Linked DNA regions of Homo sapiens: region 2 is linked to region 1. Evidence: fine-mapped expression QTL. A gene starts in region 1. The other region holds a variant in brackets. All regions are shown on one strand. Distances are from middle to middle.

Region 1 (4,205 bases):
ACAGGCATGTAAATAAACAACTGCAACACATATAAGAGCACTAGGTCACTAGCACATAAGTCACTAGGTGGCACCTAATTGGTTAGTTGGTCAGAGAAAATGTCACAAGGTCTCATCCCAGTTTAAATTTTTAAAAAATCTAATGTCTATAAAGAACACTTTGGGGACAACTAGAAAAATCTGAATCTAAACTATATATATTCATGTTACAGCAATGTTGAATTCCTAAGTATGATCACTGCGGTTATTTGGAAGAATGTCCTTATTCTTAAAGACATATGCTGAAATATCTATTTTCAACGAAGGTACACTAGGCTAAAGATACCAAGAAATTGGAGGAGGGTCAGAGAACTTAAACAAATGTTTAAAACAGGCCGGGTGCGGTGGCTCAAGCTTGTAATCCCAGCACTTTAGGAGGCCGAGGCGGGAGGATCACGAGGTCAGGAGATCGAGACCGTCCTGGCTAACACGGTGAAACCCCGTCTTTACTAAAAATACAAAAAATTAGCCGGACGTGGTGGCAGGCGCCTGCAGTCCCAGCTACTAGGGAGGCTGAGGCAGGAGAATGGCATGAACCCGGGAGGCGGAGCTTGCAGTGAGCCAAGATCGCGCCACTGCACTCCAGCCTGGGCGACAGAGCAAGACTCCGTCTCAAGGAAAAAAAAAAAAAAATGTGGAAAACAAATTGCTAAATTAAATGTGTGACCTTGAACGAGTTTCTTAAGACTCCGTACTTCTATGTCCTCATCTACAAAAGCAAAGGGTTGGACTAAGGTCCTTCCAAACTCTAGAGCTGCATTTCTTAATACCAGGGTAGAAGACAGCAACTGTTATAAAGAAAATAATATTGGAAATTTCCATAAGGAGAAATGAAGGCTTTTAAATGAACTTCCAAAAAGATAAAGATTTTGACTAGAATGAAAACGTATTTGTCACTAAATTCCCCATTTTCTAAAAACTAAATAGCACTCTTCTAAGATTCATAAGAAGGAAGTTCAAGGTCAAAAAGTCACTTCTATCGGGAAGCAAACTCACAGAACTCACTACCCCTAGGCTGAAAGTATGAACAACTTCAATAAAAATGAAAAAAAAAAAAAAAGGTAGGGGCGGGAGGGCCCTAAATCAATTCATACTATGACATGTATGAAGAGTTACTTCAGAAAAAAACCCAAAACTCTGGAATTGACTTAGGACACCAATAATGCCCTTCCACAGTTTTTTGTTGTCAAAGTTGGAAGGAAGATGTTTGTTTTCGAAGTTGTGGAGCCAACTCAAGTACACGGCTTTAGAACCAGACACCTCTGGGATTAAATCTCAGCTTTGATCTTACCTCCTATATGACCTAGTCCAAATTACTTGTTCTCTTAACCATAATATGTTCAACAATGATGCAGGTGTTGAATGACTTCCTCACAGTTGCTGAAAAACCTGAGAAACTACACGTAAAGCGCTTAGCACATTACCTGGCACACATCAAATATTCAAAACAAGGCCAGTAACTATTATGCTATAGCCTATCCAGAAATAAGGCTATACAAAAGATTATTTTCTTACCTCTCCAACTGGTTAGGTAGAAAACATAATCTTATTACTGCTATTAACAAGTAGAACAGTATACAACTACTTGGAGGAGAGGGGAAACTTCCCTACCTTGCCCCACAAAAGGCAAGTCAGTAAGCACCGCTGGTCCTCTGACATTCCCACCTATGACAGCTCCCAAGAAACACAAAAGTACTTTTGAAGGGCATTCCCCCCTGCCCAAAAAGGGGCGGCGCAAGTCTCAGCCCACCGTGCCAGACGCCGGAATGGCAGCAGAAAATGTCCTGACCCCCTCACCTCCACTCAGAGCCCACCTGCTCCCGCCCATCTCTTAGAAACTGCAGGAGCAGCCACGGCCGGGCCGCCGGGGATCCTCGCGGACTAAGGGCTGGGTCAGAGCCGCGCAAACATGGGCTCGCTCGTAGTCCTGGCGAGCAGCACTCCCAGGCAAGTCGCCCGAGGGCCTTGCAGGGCACCCAGAAAATGTCACTGCCGGCGAAGTGACCCCGAGCCGGGCCACGGGACCCCTCACACCTCACCCTTTCTCCTGCCGACCCTCGAGACGACAGCGGACTGGAAGGCATTACCTGAGCAGCAGCCCGCTGGGCCGTCCGAGGCCGGTGGTTCCGAAGGGTGGCCACGGCCACTAGCCTGCCGTAGAACATGGAGGCCGCCATTTCTGAGTCGGACCCCGTCCCCTCGGCGCCGCGCGCAGGCGCACAGGCGACAGGCGGCCCAAGGCGCAGCCTCTCTGCAGCGCTCACCTACGCCCCGCCTCGCGCCACCCGTTGGGGGCGGGGCCTCGGGTTAACACTGCAGCCGCTAGACCAGCTCCCTGGCGGGCGCGGAGCAAGCTTTGACCTTTGGAACTGGGCACCGCAGCCCCAATATCTGCCCTGCGGTCAGAGCAACCTGAACACTTCCTAGTGAATTGCAATGTAAAGGTGACCAGCGCCGCCACTTGGGTGATCTTAACTTCTCTCAGCCTCAGTTGCCTCATCTGTAAAATGTGTTTCATTCAAGAAATGATTACCCAGTGTCTACTTCGTGCTAAACAGCCTTGAGCCCTTGGCCTACAGCAATGAATAAAACCATTTGTGATGCTCAAAGAGAAGATGGTCGGTGTAACGCGCTTGTGATGCTCAAAGAGAAGATGGTCGGTGTCATGCGCTTCTGATGCTCAAAGAGATCGGTGTCACGCGCATCCGTGTGAAGACACCGCCAAACAGGGTGTGAGCAATAAGGCTGTTTATTTTAACTGGGTGCAGGCGGGCTGAGTCCGAAAAGAGAGTCAGCAAAGGGAGATAGGGGTGGGGCTGTTTTATAGGATTTGGATGGGTAGCGGAAAATTACAAAGGGGGTTTTTCTCTTACGGGCAGGGGCGGGGGTCACAAGGTGCTCAGTGGGGGAGGTTCTGAGCCAGGAGAAGGAATTTCACAAGGTTAATCACTCAGTTAAGGTGGGGCAGGAACAAATCACAATGGTGGAATGTCATCAGTTAAGGCAGGAACCGGCCAATTTCCCTTCTTTTGTGATTCTTCACTTGCTTCAGGCCATCTGGATGTACACGTGCAGGCTTGGGCTCAGAGGCCTGACAGTCGGCCACTAGTTACCAAAGCTGGTGGCAGGCTGGAGTCTCCAGGGAAGCTATTGATTGATTGATTGACTGATTGACAGGGTCTTGGTCTGTCACCCAGGCTGGAGTGCAGTGACGCGATCACAGCTCACTGCAGCCTCAACCTCCCATGCTCAAGGGATCCTCCCACCTCAGCCTCTGGAGTAGTTTGGGACCACAGATGTGTGTCACCAGGCTTGGTTGATTTTTTTATTTTATTTTTTTAGGGACAGAATCTCTCTATGTTGCCCAGGCTGGTCTCCAACTCGTGGGTTCAAGCGATCCTCCTGCCTCAGTCTCCCAAAGTGCTGGGATGACAGGTGTGGGCAACCACACCCAGCCAAGGATCTGGTTTTTGAAAAGATAAATAAATTTAACAAACCTCCAGCAAGACTGCAAAGAAAAAAGAAAAAGAGAAGACACAAATTACCAATGTGAGGAACATACCAGGGAATATAATTACAGAACCTTCAGACACCAAAAAGGAATGCCATAAATAACACCACATAACATAAATTTGACAACTTTGACAAGATGAGCGAATTCTTCAGAAGGCACAAATTACTACAAATAACCTAATATGAAAAGGTAATTTAAATAGTCCTCTAACTAGAGAAAATTGTAATTGTAATTTTTAAACTAAAAAAAAAAAAAACCTGAGATCTCCAGGCCCAAAAGCTTTCACTGATGAATTCTATAAAATGTTTACACAAGAATTAACACCAATTCCATACAGCCTCTTCCAGAAGATAGAAGAGGAAGGAACAGTTGCCAATGTACTGTATGAAGTTAGAATCACCCCACTACCAAAGCCAGCAAAAGACCGTACAAAAAGAAAAAAATACCAACACTTCTCATGAATATTGATGGAAAAATCCATAGCAAAATATTAGCAAATATAATTCAGAAATATATAAAAAGAATTGTACAATATGACCAAGTGGGATATATTCCAGAGATGTAAGTTTGTTTTAATATTTGAAAATATGTGTAATGCACTATATTAAGTTAGAAAAATCACATGATAATTTCGATCAAAACAAAAAAAGTA
Region 2 (4,205 bases), 54 kb before region 1:
TCTGGCCAAGCCTGGGGGCTCATGCTTGTAATCCCAGCACTTTGGAAGGCCGAGGTGGGAGGATCATATGAGGTCTGGAGTTCGAGACCAGCCTGGTCAACATGGCAAAACCCTATCTCTACTAAAAATACAAGGCTGGGCGCAGTGGCTCACACCTGAATCCCAGCACTTTGGGAGGCCGAGGCAGGTGGATCACAAAGTCAGGGGTTCAAGACCAGCCTGACCAACATGGTGAAACCGCATCTCTACTAAAAATACATAATTAGCCAGGCATGGTGGTACATGCCTGTAATCCCAGCTGCTTGGGAGGCTGAGGCAGGAGGATTGCTTGAACCTGGGAGATGGAGGTTGCAGTGAGCCGAGATCACACCACTGCACTCCAGCCTGGGCAACAAGACCAAAACTCTGTCTTAAAAAAAAAAAAAAAAAAAAAAAATTAGCTGGGCGTGGTGGCACACACCTGTAGTCTCAGCTACTCAGAAGGCTGAGACACAAGAATTGCTTAAACCCAGGAGGCAAAGGTTACAGTGAGCTGAGATCACGCCACTGTACTCCAGCCTAGGTGACAGAGCAAGACTCAGTCTCAAAAAAAAAAAAAAAAAAAAAATCAAGAATCTACTATTGATTAAGCTATAGAGCCCAAAGAGTGTTCGAGTGTTCAATGAAATGTCTATAAACATAATGGAAGGGAAGACAAAAAATTCTCATCTCTCTGTATCTACTATGAAGTGTTCTCTGATACACATTATTGTTAAGTAAAAGAAACAAAGTATAGATTACCATTAATCTAAAGTGGGAAAAGGGAGACACACACACACACACACACACACACACACACACACACACACAAAGTCCCCCCCTTATCCAATTTCACTTTCTACAGTTTCAGTTACCTGCAGTCAACTGTGGTCCAAAAATTTTAAATGAGAAATTCCAGAAATAAAAAAGTCATTAAGTTTTAAACTGTGTGTTGTTCTGAGAAGTGTGATGAAATCTTGCACCATCCTGCTCCAAGTGGAATGTGAACCATCTCTTTGCCCAGCGTATCCACGCTGTATAAACTACTCTTCCATTAGTCATCAACATTATCTACTCTTGACATCCAACAATCAACATCATGGCTCAATGATCCAGGATGAACCAAAGCAGATGATTCTCCTTCTGTTACATCATTAGGTCAGTAGTAGCCTAACACTATGTCACAATGCCTTCATCATTCACCTCAGTTCATCTCACCAAGTAAGCATTTTATCATCTCATTATCACCACAAAGGTGAGTATAGAACAATAAGATATTTTGAGAGACCACATTCACATTTATCACGGTATATTGTTATAATTGTTCTACTTTATTATTAGTTGTTGTTAATCTGTTACTATGTCTAATACATAAACTTTATCAAAGGAATATATGTACAGGAAGAAGCACAGTATATACAGGTTTGGAACTATCTGTGATTCAGGCACCCACTAGGGGTCTTGCAACACATTCCCTGCAGATAAGGGGGGACTACTGCACACATACATATAGTTATATACATACAATTAGCTTATGTTTTTAAGAAGTGGAAAGATAAACCAAAACTTTCTTAAAAAACAAACAAAAAAAAAAGGTAAAAAGGTTGCCTGTTGGGGAAGAAGTAAAGAGGGAAATATATAAAAGCTAGATTCCCTGATAATACCTTGTTCTATACTTTCCACTTTGGAATCATGTAAATACAAAATAAAAAACAAAAGGTTGT[G/GT]TTTTTTTTTTTTTAAAAAAAGCAATCCCTTTAAAAACAATGAAACTATACAAAGCTGAGACAAAACACACAGAGAATTATTTCACATGAATTTTAAAATCCACTAAGTTGTGGGACATACCCTAAAGGACAGAAAGAAATGCAGATATAATTGCTTTCAGTAATCAGACTGTTGGTATTCTTATTATAAAACTGTCATATCTGTACTAAGGGACAAAGCAAATGAATAATTATGATAGTATGGCATGAACGAAGGTACAAACAGATGTCAGATAAGAAAAAAAAATCTATACTCCTGGACTTGCATTGAAAATATCAGTATGAACTCAAGTATTACCTCTTTAAAAAATACATGTTTTCTCAGACTTGCCACTTAAAAAGCTCAGAAACAATAATCAACCCAGTATCTATGAATACTCATAAGGCCAAATTGTGCTCTCTAAATACCATTTGGCCCATTCAAGTTCTGACTCAAGAAACGTAAAGATGAGCCTGAAACATTTTATCATACCAGATAGAGGGCTTCTCAGAAGGATGCAACAGTTAACCTGAAGAGGTTCCCAAAGACCAAAGGTTGGACAATTTCAATCACAACTTACATGAACTGAACTACATCAATGTTTTAAGTCATAAGTTCAAAACAGTATGCCAGTGGAACACACATGTGTATGCATGTGTATGCACACACGCACAATACACACACACACACACACACACACACCTGAAAACAAAAAGTAAACAAAATACAAAAAAAACAAAAAACAAAAAAAACCCTAGGTCACCTTTATTGGACATAATAGAACAAACATTATTTTGAAAATTGGTCAATAAAGGCAAATAATCAGGTAATTATCCTACTTTTCCTATGCAAAATGTACTCCATGGTAACAAATGGTTGACACGTGGAAGTATTACTTTTTAGAAGCATTACATATAATAAGTGAAGAATGACAGAATTACAATAGCAACGCTTTGCAACACAAACAAAATACTGGATCTAAGCTATGATGTCAATGGCTAGTAATACCACAAAAAGATTAACATTGTATACGTTTTGATGAAATTAAACACCTACTATGAAATATTCTTGTTCCCTGCTCCCCAAAATCAAATATGAATATGGTCAAGCCTACAGACTGAACTCCCAGTTTACAGGAAATACACAAGGCAGAGAACACAGAGAGGGCAGAGAACACAGTAAATGAATGACAGCCTAAAGATGCAACCATTAAAATCCAGACTATGAGAAACTTAACAAGACCATCAACCTGGATTTTTCAACAAATAAACCACAGAAAATACTTTTCTTTTTAAAAGGGGAAACCAACAGATTAAGAAACTTACTGACATATTAACCAACTACAATGCAGAGACTTATTCTGACCCTTACAAAGAACTTAAACAAAAGATATAAGAGACTCAGAAATTTCAACAGACTGTATTTTTATAAAACATAACCATAATACCATTACCCCACCTAAAACAAGTAACAGTAATTTTTTTATACCATTATCAATACCTTTATCTTTTACAGATGCATGATGAAATGTATGAAATGATATAATGTCTGGGATTTGCTTGAAAATAATCACAGTTGTGGGAGGAAGTAAGAATACAGACAAAACAACAAACAAGATTGGGCAGGAGCTGACCGTTGTTTAAGATGATCACAGATATAAGACGTTCTGACAAAGATTCTCTCCTTGACCAAACTCTCTTTTGTTTTTTCAATATATATTTATCGAATATATAGATAGATACACACACATACATACATATGCGTGCATGTGTGTGTGCGTGCATGTGTGTGTGCGCACATGTGTGAAGATAGGGTCTCCCTATGTTGCCCAGGCTAGTCTCAAACTCCTGGACTCAAGCAATCCTCCTGCCTCAGCCTCCCAAAGGCTACTCTGAACTCTCTTCTCAACTTGGCCCTAACTTTTGGACTTCTGTATTTGTCCCTGCATAGTCCAATTTTACCAAGAATCTTGCTTAAGTCAGTTTAGCCAGGATCCTCCCTTACCCATAATGTATCCTTTTAGTAATTTTTCATCCACTGCCCCGACCCTCTTCCTTGGTTATAAATTCCCACTTTTCCTTGCTGTATTTGGAGTTGGGCCCAATCTTTCTCCCCTACTGCAAAACTCCACTGCAGTAGTCTCTATGCTTATTGCAACAGTCCCTCTGAATAAAGTCTGCCTTAACATCTTTCAGCAAGAGTCATGAATAATCGTTTTCTTTAACCATTCATTACACTCATAATATTTAGCTGAAACACAAATTATTAGCTGTATTAATAATTAGGTTCATTTTAGAATCTGTGTTTATAAATCCTCCTTAGATGAACATGGCCAATTTACCATTCTAGCAGCTTCATCCAAGTCATCACAAGCAAGTATTTTAAGTCCACTGTCCGCTATCAGTGCCTTAGCATCATCGACTCGTGTACCTGTAAATGATTTA

The links. PIP is the estimated chance that this variant, and not a neighbour inherited with it, causes the effect. A credible set is the group of variants that fine-mapping cannot tell apart.
Region 2: its variant is the best candidate, but not a certain one, in a credible set for the expression of SUCLA2 in whole blood (INTERVAL, PIP 0.85).

What each region holds. Positions count from the first base shown.
Region 1 is chr13:47,999,054-48,003,258 of GRCh38, forward strand. SUCLA2 (succinate-CoA ligase ADP-forming subunit beta) reads right to left here and starts at 2,220. Exons shown (of 11, transcript NM_003850.3): 1 at 2,127-2,220. The coding sequence starts at 2,216. SUCLA2-AS1 (SUCLA2 antisense RNA 1) reads left to right here and starts at 2,352. Exons shown (of 2, transcript NR_189308.1): 1 at 2,352-2,769; 2 at 3,382-3,638. RefSeq lists enhancers at 1,855-1,904, 1,925-1,974, 1,995-2,184, 2,561-3,760 and a silencer at 2,305-2,414.
Region 2 is chr13:47,944,838-47,949,042 of GRCh38, forward strand. SUCLA2 (succinate-CoA ligase ADP-forming subunit beta) reads right to left here. Exons shown (of 11, transcript NM_003850.3): 10 at 4,103-4,191. Among named protein-coding and RNA genes, the nearest start is that of LINC00562, 14 kb to the left of the region's middle. The variant G/GT (reference allele first, on the strand shown) is at 1,743.